Linked DNA regions of Homo sapiens: region 1 is linked to region 2. The links come from fine-mapping of genetic effects on gene expression. A gene starts in region 2. The other region holds a variant in brackets. All regions are shown on one strand. Distances are from middle to middle. Region 1 overlaps NTAN1 (N-terminal asparagine amidase). Region 2 holds the start of RRN3 (RNA polymerase I transcription factor RRN3).

The links. PIP is the estimated chance that this variant, and not a neighbour inherited with it, causes the effect. A credible set is the group of variants that fine-mapping cannot tell apart.
Region 1: its variant is the best candidate, but not a certain one, in a credible set for the expression of RRN3 in whole blood (TOPMed, PIP 0.87).

The regions. Positions count from the first base shown.
Region 1 is chr16:15,043,526-15,048,896 of GRCh38, forward strand. NTAN1 (N-terminal asparagine amidase) reads right to left here. Exons shown (of 10, transcript NM_173474.4): 2 at 4,472-4,574; 3 at 4,330-4,395; 4 at 3,917-4,025; 5 at 809-882. It also overlaps a transcript of PDXDC1 not described here. Among named protein-coding and RNA genes, the nearest start is that of NTAN1, 9.9 kb to the right of the region's middle. The variant T/TTTGC (reference allele first, on the strand shown) is at 2,443.
Region 2 is chr16:15,091,489-15,096,859 of GRCh38, forward strand. It overlaps RRN3 (RNA polymerase I transcription factor RRN3), which reads right to left and starts at 2,784. Exons shown (of 18, transcript NM_018427.5): 1 at 2,657-2,784; 2 at 1,021-1,126. The coding sequence starts at 2,745. It overlaps LOC100505915 (a long non-coding RNA gene), which reads left to right and starts at 2,923. Exons shown (of 4, transcript NR_125434.1): 1 at 2,923-3,323. It also overlaps a transcript of PDXDC1 not described here. RefSeq lists an enhancer at 2,764-3,058.

The sequences.
Region 1 (5,371 bases), 48 kb before region 2:
AGTGAGGCCTTCAGTCATGATGCCAAATTGCTTCCCAGACAGGCTGTACCATCATATGAGTAAGCTTGCTTCATGGCCTGGTGGTTAGTCAACACACGACAATGTTTTCTTTCTTTCTTTTTTGAAAATATTTGCTAATTTAGGCCAGGTGTGGTGACTCACACCTGTAATCCCAGCACTTTAAGAGGCCGAGGCAGGTGCATCACCAGGTCGGGAGTTCACAACCAGCCTGGCCAACATGGTGAAACCCCATTTCTACCAAAAATACAAAAATTAGGTGGGTGTGGTGGCGCACGCCTGTGATCCCAGCTACTCAGGAGGGTGAGGCAAGAGAATTGCTTGAACCCAGGAGGCAGAGCTTGCAGTGAGCCGAGATCATGCTACTGCACTCCAACTTGGGCAACAGAGCAAGACTACATCTCAAAAAAAGAAAAAAAAAGAAAAAATTTGCTAATAGGGAAAAAATGGTATCATCAGTGTTTTAATTTTCTGCAGATTAAAATGGACATTTTTGCCAGGAGGGAGGGTGGCTCTGCTTTCACACAATTCAGAGCACTTACTATTTTGGAATGTGTTCACTGCTGTTTTAGTAGAAAATCTTGTCCCCAGCCCTGCTACCCCTCCCTACACATGAGCTCCACGCATTCAGTCTTTCTGTGAAATTCCAAGCTGGGCAGTCTGTTTCTCTGTGCTGCTCCAAGTGGGTGTGCCCTTCTTGGGTTTTGTACCAATTGGGATTTTTAACCCAAGCAAATATGGGTACATATTTATGTCCAATTTGGGGGAAAGAAAAAAAAAATGAACTTACTAAGAAGTTGATGAGTGAGTTTTTGTGACAACTGCCTGTCGTCACTGAAGCCTCCAACAAGGTGTACTTCCAGCCTGGCAAAGAGATGAGACGGGTCAGAGGCCAGAAGAAGACACCGGTGCGTGCGCTGGTCTCACTTTGAACTTTCATTCTCAGTTTCCATGAACACTTGCTCTACAGCAGAGCTGCAGGTCATCTTCGTGCCACCGCAAAAGAAAGTATCGGCAGCACACTGCCAAGGCCAGTGGCGAGCTTCTGGGGACCCTGCCCAGGGGCCCTGATGACTGAGGGGATCCGTATCTGAACACAAATGTGATGCCGCCTCCATGCACCAGTGGGGAACTTTGCTCTGGAAGAGCACAGGCACAGGACAGGTGCAGTGGCTCACATCTGTAATCCTAGCACTTTGGGAGGCTGAGGTGGGCGGATCACTTGAGGTTAGGAGTCTTGAGACCAGCCTGGCCAACATGGTAAAACCCCATCTCTACTAAAAATACAAAAATTAGGCCGGGCGCAGTGGCTCACGCCTGTAATCCCAGCACTTTGGGAGGCTGAGGCGGGCAGATTGCTTGAGCTCAGGAGTTTGCAACCAGCCTGGGCAACAAGGTAAAACTCCATCTCTACTAAAATACAAAAAAAAATTAGCTGGACATTATGGCATGTGCCTGTAGTCCCAGCTACTTGGGAGGCTAAGGCAGGAGAACTGCTTGACCCTGGGAGGCAGAGGTTGCAGTGAGTCAAGATCGTGCCACTGCACTCCAGCTTGGGCTACAGAGTAAGACTCTATCTCAAAAAAAAAAAAAAAAAGAAAAGAAATTAGCCGGGCATGGTGGCACACCTGTAATCCCAGCTACTCGGGAAGCTGAGGCAGGAGAATTGCTTGAACCTGGGAGGCAGAGGTTGCAGTGAGCTGAGATCGCGCCACTGCACTCCAGCTCTGGGCAATCGAGCAAGACTCCGTCTCAGGGGGAAAAAATAAATAAGTAAGTTGGGCGTGGTGGTGGGCGTCTGTAATCCCGGCTACTCGGGAGGCTGAGGCAGGAGAATCACTTGGACCCAGGAGGCAGAGGTTGCAGTGAGCCAAGATTGCATCACTGCATGCCAGCCTGGGTGACAGAGCCAGACTCTGTCTCAAAAAAAAAAAAAAAAGGTTTGAGGCCAGGTGTGCTGGCATATACCTCTATTCCCAGCTACGCGGGAGGCAGAGGTGGAAGGAATGCTTCAGCCCAGAAGTTTGAGACTAGCCTGGGTGACAGGGTGAAACCCCGGCTCTAAAACAAAAACAAAACAAAACAAAAAGACTGGGCAACTGCCTGCTGGAAGCCCTCCTTAGGAGTCACACTGCGCATTGCACAGTGAAGCTCTTGAGAAGTCCTGCGACTGAAAAATCCAACTAACTTTCTTGAACCCAGTGTTTCCCACACTCATCTACTAACCCCCTTTTCCACAGCCCGTCAAGTGGGCGAATTCACGCTCGGCAAAGTGTTGCCAGACTTTACGCTGCCTTCTCAGACACAAAATCTTCCTAAGGGATGAACCAGAAGCTTGGATGTACCCAACATAGGGCACAGCCTCAAGGGGCCTCATAATAAACTCCAAGTAGTAGCAGTAAGGAGAGCTGCGACCACCATGGC[T/TTTGC]TTGCCACTGGGCCACCAGGTTTGCCTCTGACTCCCTGAGCGATCACAGTTCTACAACAGATCAGGAAGAGCTGACAAGCACGTTCTGAGAACCACGGAGCAGAGTGTGTGGCAACATAATGGCATTGATTACGTCCCCCTGCGGGGGCCAAGATGATAGGAAAATGAAAATACCATTTTGGGCCTGCATGGGTCACGTGTCCATGAAGCCAGCCCAGCCTTGGCACAGACCACAGAGGGAGAATTTAGAATCGACCAGTATTGACTAGCAAATCTCTCCCAGAGAACTCTCTCTTTCCTTTTTAGACTCCTAGGATTAAGCCTTCGTATATGATGGGAGTAGTTCACTCAATGGCTGCCTTAGACTTCCAGTAAAATGAGAGCAACACCTGCCAGGTCTCCACAAAGAGCAAGGAGAGGGGACAGGTGTGTGAACAGTGGTCTTGACAGCAGGCCTGTGTCGTCGGCCTCCACCTAGCTCCTGTGTGCTCCAGCACATCGAGCCTCAGTTGCCCGTCTCTGTCAAATGGAGGCAGCGGCTACTTTACTGCAGTGAGAGAGGATGAGGTGCTGTGGGGGCACCCAGGCTAGAGGCCGCTTCTTATCCAGCAATCCTTGGGGAAACTACCAATCTGCTGGAATTTAAAACTATACCCCTCAGCTGGGAGGATCACTTGAGCCCAAGAGTTTAAGACCGGCCTGGGCAACTTGGCAAAACCCTGTCTCTACCAAAAAAAAAAAAAAAAAAAAAAAAAAAGCTAGCTGGGTATGGTGGTGTACACCTGTGGTCCCAGCTACTTGGGAGGCTGAGGTCGGAGAATCACCTGAGTCCACAAAGTCAAGGCTGCAGTAAGCTGAGATCACACAACTGTGCTCCAGACAGGGCGACACAGCAAGACCCTATCTCAACAACAAAAAGAGAACAAGAAAAAAAACTACATGCCTCGCCCCCTAGCGGTCCCCACATCTTCCTGGCCTCGTTTTCTCCACAGCCCCGCCTCACCACCCAACACCCCATCTTGTGTACAGTCTCTCGGCTTCGGAATACAAACACCTTGGGCCGGGCTTTCTGTCTACTCTTCACTGCTGTGTCCCTAGAAACTACAAGGTGTAGGTGAGAGGAAGCATTTAACAAGCAACTGCGGGAGGAATGACTGCATGGAGAGCTACCACACCCGGGGGAGAGCAAAACGATGTGAAAATCGCAACCTCGACGTTCCTGAGACGACATCAAGTTCAAAGTCAAGCCTTCCATCTCAAATCCAGCACAGACTCCTTGCCTGTGCCCAGCACCCACTCATTCACTCAACCACTGCTGACGCAGTGCCCACGTCGTGCCAGGTTCTGTTCCAGGGGAACGAGGCAGACACGGCAGTGGTGGCATCCTGTGTTCCCCTAACAGCTTCCACAGCCACGTCCTGTATGCGACGGTTCCAAGATCTCAATTCACCTATGAGAGCAGCGTAGATCTCACCTTCCACATTGAGCGTGGTCAGAAAAGGATTTTATGGAGTTCATGATCAAGGGGACCTCAGCTTTGGTGTCGGTTCCGTCACAATGTGTCAAGCAGGTGGCCCCATTACCTGAAGAACAAGGGTGAAAGGACTCAAGTTATTCCCTGATGCGAGTGCAGTGCGCAGGCCGAGACTCCGCCTGTCCCTCCGGACCGCCTCATCTTTGAATATCCTGTAGGGGAAAAACGGACAGGTCTGTGCTCCCCAGCCAACCCATTCTGACCAGGACACCAGGGAGACACCATGCAGACCAGAAAAAAGGTAAGCGGAGTCCGCTTCCAACAAGACACCAGGAAACTCAACACGAGAAATTCAATGGTCCCAAAGGTTGGGTCAGTTTAAGTAATGGTTTCCTTCACCTCTCTCATCATACCTGTGTGCCTCAGGACCACAATGTGACAAGTAGTGGCATCATCAGAACCCAGAATGGAGATGGAGCCTGTTTAAAAAAGAAATAAAATAAAATATCCAATAGCCTTTTGGGATAACGCCCAATTCACTGCTTCCTAACCTACCATCCTTTGGGGAGGTCACTGCAAGCTCTCTTTGCTGAACATACAGAAGGCCCTGGGGTCCCACTTGTTGAACAGACTGACCTCTGAGAAGTCTGGCTCTTTCCTGTTTAATTAAAAAAAAAATAAAATAGTGATGTAAATTAGTGAGGATGGAAAAACTAAAGATGTGGAGAGAGCCAAAGTGGGCTCTGCGTGGGCAGCACGCTAGTGTGTGGGGAGTGTGTTAGTGGACAGAGAGGCTCAAAGAAAAAGGCAGCAGCCACGGTCATTCAGAACAATGCAGAGAAAACGATGCGGTTCTGCGCGGTGGTTTTTTTAACCTATGAAATCGGATGTCATAGTAACCTATGAAATGAGATGCAAAAATCCTTTATTATAGTTTTTTGTTTGTTTGTTTGTTTTTTAAAGACACAGGGCCTCACTATGTTGCCCAGGCTGGTCTTGAACTCCTGGGCTCAAGCAATCTTCCTGCCTTGGCCTCCCAAAGTGCTGGGATTACAGGCATGACCCACCACACCCAGCTATCACAGTTCTTTACTAAAGAGTGTGAGACTCTTAACAATTTTACCATTGTAAAGAGAATCAGATTACACAGGAATAGTGGATGGATGGCTCTGAAATCACATCCCCTCTTTTTTATTTTTTGAGACAGTCTCTCACTCTGTCACCCAAGCTGGAGTATAGTGGTACAATTTCAACTCACTGCAGCCTCCACCTCCCAGGCTCAAGCGATCCTACCACCTTAGCCTCCCAAATAGCTGGGACTACAGGCTTGCACCACCACACCTGGCTGAGTTTTATACTTTTTGTAGCGACGGGGTCTCCCTATGCTCCCCAGGCTGGTCTCAAACTCCTGGGCTCAAGCAATCCACCCACCCTGGCCTCCTAAAGTGCTGGGAG
Region 2 (5,371 bases):
CATGTCAATTGCGGATTATAAAATCATGACTACAAAAATTTAAACACTCATGTTAGTGCAGCCAGAGGGCTTGGAAAAAGGAAAATGATAAACTACATTTAGCTATACTTCTGTATTGACATTTGAATATAATAGTTGATACTCCTGCGAATTCTCAAAAAGCATGAGGGAAAAAAACAGCCAGCTATAATGATCTAATTCAGGAGGATCTAAAAAAGTATTCACTCAAATATGGATACAAATGGATATTACATATAAACATATGGTTACTTAACATTTTCCCTCTACTGCTGAGATACAGTAGAAATGCTTCTAAACTACCACAAAAACAAAAATCCCTACTCAGAGAACTGGTTTACTGTCCCAAAGTAATGCTTAGGTAAGTTCCTCAAAAAATAAAATGCTGTAGGCCAGGCATGGTGGCTCACGTCTGTAATCCCAGCACTTTGGGAGGCCAAGGCGGGTGGATCACAAGGTCAGGAGTTCGAGACCAGCCTGGCCAACATGGTGAAACCCTGCCTCTACTAAAAAAATAAAAAAATTAGCCAGGTGTGGTGGTGTGTGCCTGTAACCCCACCTATTCGGAAGACTGAGGCAGGAGAATTGCTTGAACCTGGGAGGTGGAGGATGCAGTGAGCCGAGGTCACGCCACTGCACTCCAGCCTGGGTGACAGAGGAAGACTCCAGCACAAATAAATAAATAAATAAAATGGTGTAATTGTTTTTAATTCTGGCACTTGCTAAAGTTAAAAGATGCTTCGTAAATAAAGCATTTGAAGAGGTGAAACCTCAGTAAAGACATTATTACTCTCTCATTATTACCTGTGAAATGGGCCAAGGTGGGGGAAAAAAAGGACACTATTACTCTAATTTTGCACTGACGGCATCATGCTATTATTAAATATTTGATTTCAACTGGTATCTTAATTAATCTTGCTATTTCTATTGGTCTTTAGTATAACAGCAATAGTTGTATTCTGACCTAACCAAAAGCAAACCTCACACATTATCTCCCCTTACCTTTTTGTACTTCAGCAAGACTTCTGTCACAGTTCCACCAAACCGAACAGTTTTTCTTGGGGGAGAATTGAAAAAGTCATTCTCTAATGCACGCATATTTGAAATCCTGTGGAACCAAGATTAACAAGCTATTAAGTTCATGAAAATAATAAAAATTATAATAGCCAACATTTATTGAACCAACATAATTCAGTGGAACTATTGTTAAGGCCTCTTTACTGGTCTCCCTGCTTCCACTCTTAACCAACAATCCTTCCTTTGCTCAGCAACCAATAACTGTCTTCCCACTGCACTTACAGTAAAAATCCAAATCTCTCAGTGTGGTCTTTAAGATCCTACATTAATCTGGCCCCTGCCTACCTCTCTCACCTCATCTCCAACAACTTGTTTTACTACAGCCATAACGTCTTTTCTGCTCTTCAAACAAGCCAAGCTGTTTTTCATTTCACTTACTGTTCACTCTATTGGAAATACTCTTTTCCCAAATCTCTACGTGGCTGGATTTTTTTTTTTGAGATGGAGTCTTGCTCTGCTGCCCAGGCTGGAGTGCAGTGGTGTGATCTTGGCTTAACTGCAACCTCCATCTCCCGGGTTCAAGCAATTATCCTGCCTCAGCCTCCTGAGTAGCTGGGATTACAGGCACCTGCCACCATGCCCGGCTGATTTTTGTATTTTCAGTAGAGACGAGGTTTCGCACGTTGGCCAGGCTGGTCTCCAACTCCTGACTTCAGATGATCCGCCCGCCTCGGCCTCCCAAAGTGCTGGGATTACAGGCGTGAGCAACCGCGCCCGGCCTAGATTTTTGTCTTCATTCAAGTGGAAGCTCAAATGACAGATGTCTTCCCAATGAGAAATCTCAAAAGCTCCTTCTCTCCCTTCTCCCTCCCCCATTACCTTGTTGTATAACTGAAATCATCGTGTTCGTTTATTTATTGGCCTATGTACTGCCTTTCCCCCCTATGCTGTAAGCTCTGTAGAAAGCAGGGACATTAGTGTCTTTGGATAAACCACTGTCCCCAGTGTTTAACACAGTAAGCAGGAGCTCGATAATTATTATGAATCATATTACGCTAATTGTTTTACAAGGTTTGCTTCACTTACACGTAGTAAATTAATGAAAAAACATAGCATCCTAATGACTCTGAAAGTTAAACGCCAAGAGTGCTACGGGGGTTAGGGATTTTAAAAGTGGAGCAAAATAAAGACTGCGAAACAAATACGTGTGTCGAAACAAATTCCAAACAAAAAAGATGTAATATTCAATTTGCCATGAGTGACGACGTTCGGCTGATAACCCACATAGCCCAGGGAAATCCCTTCCAAATTTGGACGAAGAAGAGGGAAGGAAGAGGGGTCAAGGCGCAGAAGGCAGTACCCAGGCCTGGGAAATCACGAAGAGACACAGTCGGGAAAGGGGGCCTCCAGAACAGAGAACATAGTCACTTTTCCAGGCCCCACCCATGTCTATTACCCAGTTAGGAGGAATGAGCTCATTTCTGTGAACGTGAGATGACCCTCCACCCCGTGCTCCTATCACACGCCATGAGCTTTGTCCCACATCCTTTCAATCCGCTCCTCTAAGCGCCGTCCTGAGCTTTCGTCCCAGATACGCAGAAGGAAGCGGCCTGAATCTTACCCAGTCCTCGACGCGCCCAGCTTCTTAACTGCAGAGGACGAAGCGGCCGCATCTCCCGGCAAACGCGTGTGAAGCAGCGGTGCCGCCATTGGGCCGAACTAACGCGACCGCTGCGCCTCAGGCCGGATGCCCAGCTCCTTCCAGCCACAGCCTCTGTCCCGGAAGTTGCGCGTGCCAGCGCAACCTTCAGCCAATCAGCGGCCCCGCGTGGGGAGGGCGTATGCTCTCGGCGGGCTAGAGCGCCGCTGAAACCCGCTCCTCGTTCTACTTGGAGGACTTGTTCCAGCCAGCGCTAGTGCGTGAGTATAAGGAGAGACGGGAAGGACCGGCTCCATCCAGCCCTGAGGATCCCGAAGAAAGGGTGGAAACACCCTGGATGTGCTAAGCTGTGGCCGGGTACACTCAAGTGTTAATTTTTTGGAGTCAAAGCCTCCCTCAGTCAAATCGAAGAAACTGAAGCACTTGTGACTGACCCAGATCTTCACGGAGGAAAGGGGATTCGAACCCGGCTGACCCAGGAGCCTGGGCTCTATACTCAGTGCAGCAGTCTCACAGACACCCAAGATAACGTTATCCTCACGGAAACGAGCTCGACGAAGTGACCTACCTCAGAGCCTCAAGGCTATGGTGATGCTGGCATGAGAAACAACAGGAGAGTTACGAAGAGGTGTTACCCCCTTGACTTTATTTATTTATTTATTTATTTTCTTTTGAGGCCGAGTCTTGCCCTTTTGCCCAGGTGGAGTGCAGTGGTGTGATCTCAGCTCACTGCAACCTCCGCCTCCCCAGTTCCAGCAATTCTCGTGCCTCAGCCTCCCAAGTAGCTGGGATTACAGGCGCATGCCACCACACCCGGCTAATTTTCGTATTTTTAGTGGAGACGGGGTTGCACTGTGTTGGCCAGGCTGGTCTCGAACTCATGACCTCAGGTCATCCGCCCGCCTCGGCCTCCCAAAGTGCTGGGATTACAAGCATGAGCCACCACGCCCGGCCAAACTTAAATTTTTAAAAGAGGAACAGGAGTCAGCCAGACCAACAAAAGAGCCACTGGCGTTCCAAGCATAGGAAACGGAGGAAACAGAGGCCAAAACCTCGGGACTGTGGAGGATGTAGAGGGAGAGCAGGGGCTGCCCCTACTCTCAGGGAGGGGAAAAGGTTGCAACTTTGGAAACTGTACAGGCCTATCAAAAATACAAAAATATCCAGCCTGGGTGACACGGTGAAACTCCATCTCTACAAAAAATTTAAAAAATAAAAATAATAAAAATTATCTGGGTGTGGTGGCACACACCTGTAGTCCCAGCTACTCGGGAGGCTGAGGATTGCTTGAGCCTGGGAGATAGCACCACTGCACTCCTGCTTGGGCAACAGAGTGAGACCCTGTCTCGAAATAAATAAATAAGTTTTTAAAAATGCATATGTATGGGCCCGGCGCAGTGGCTCACGCCTGTTATCCCAACACTTTGGGAGGCCGAGGCAAGTGGATCACCTGAGGCCAGAAGTTTGAGACCAGCCTGGCCAACATGACAAAACCCTGTCTCTACTAAAAATACAAAATTAGCCAGGCATGGTGGCAGTGCCTGTAATCCCAGCTACTTGGGAGGCCGAGGCAGGAGAATAGTTTGAACCCAGGAGGCAGAGGTTGCAGTGAGCCAAGATCGTGCCATTGCACTCCAGCCTGGGTGACGAGTGAAACTGTGTCTCAAAAAAAAAAAAGGTGTGTGTGTGTGTGTGTGTGTGTGTGTGTGTTTATATGTATCTCTCTCCAGGAGTTCAAGACCAGCCTGGGCAACATATGGTGGTGCATACCTGTAGTCCCAGCTACTTGAAAACTGAGGACGGAGGATCACTTGAGCCCTGGAGGTCAAGGCTGCAGTGAGCTGTGATTGTACCCCTGCACTCCAGCCTGGACAACACAGCAAGACCCTATTTCACAACATAAAATACAGCAATTTGGTTTTTTTGTTTTTTGTTTTTTTTTTGAGACAGAGTCTCGCTCTGTCACCCAGGCTGGAGTACAGTGTCATGATCTTGGCTCACTGCATCCTCTGCTTCCCAGGTTCAAGCGATTCTTGTGCCTCAGCCTCCCCAGTAGCTAGGATTACAGGCATGCGCCACCATGCCCAGCTAATTTTTGTATTTTTAGTAGAGACAGGGTTTCACCATGTTGGCCAGGCTGGTCTCAAACTCTTGACCTCAAGTGATCCGCCCGCCTTGGCATCCCAAAGTGCTGGGATTACAGGCATGAGCCACCACGCCCCGCCAGCAGTTTGTTAAACATAAACCATAGCTCTGTTTTGCAACAGTGTAAAATCAGTAACTGTCTTTCCTGAGTCTCTATTTGGTCCTTACTGAGTTCCTTGGGAATGTTGGACAGGAATCATCTGTGTCTCAAGGACAGAGGAAATAATTGCACCGTAGCTCACAAAGATACTTCAAGATAACTGTTTAAATGAGAATCTCTTCTTCACTTCCAAGGGAAAGCAAAGCAAAAACAAAAAGCAACAATAGCAAAACAGCAATCTGACAATTATCTGTTTTGTTTTGTTTTGGTTTGAGACAGGATCTCATTGTCTAGCCCAAGTTAGAGCGCAATGGCGCGATCATGGCTCGTTGCAGCCTCGGGCTCCTACAGCTTATGCAATCCTCTCACCTCAGCCGCCCGAACCCACACCACCAAGCCCAGCTAATTTTTTGTATTTTTGGTAAATACGA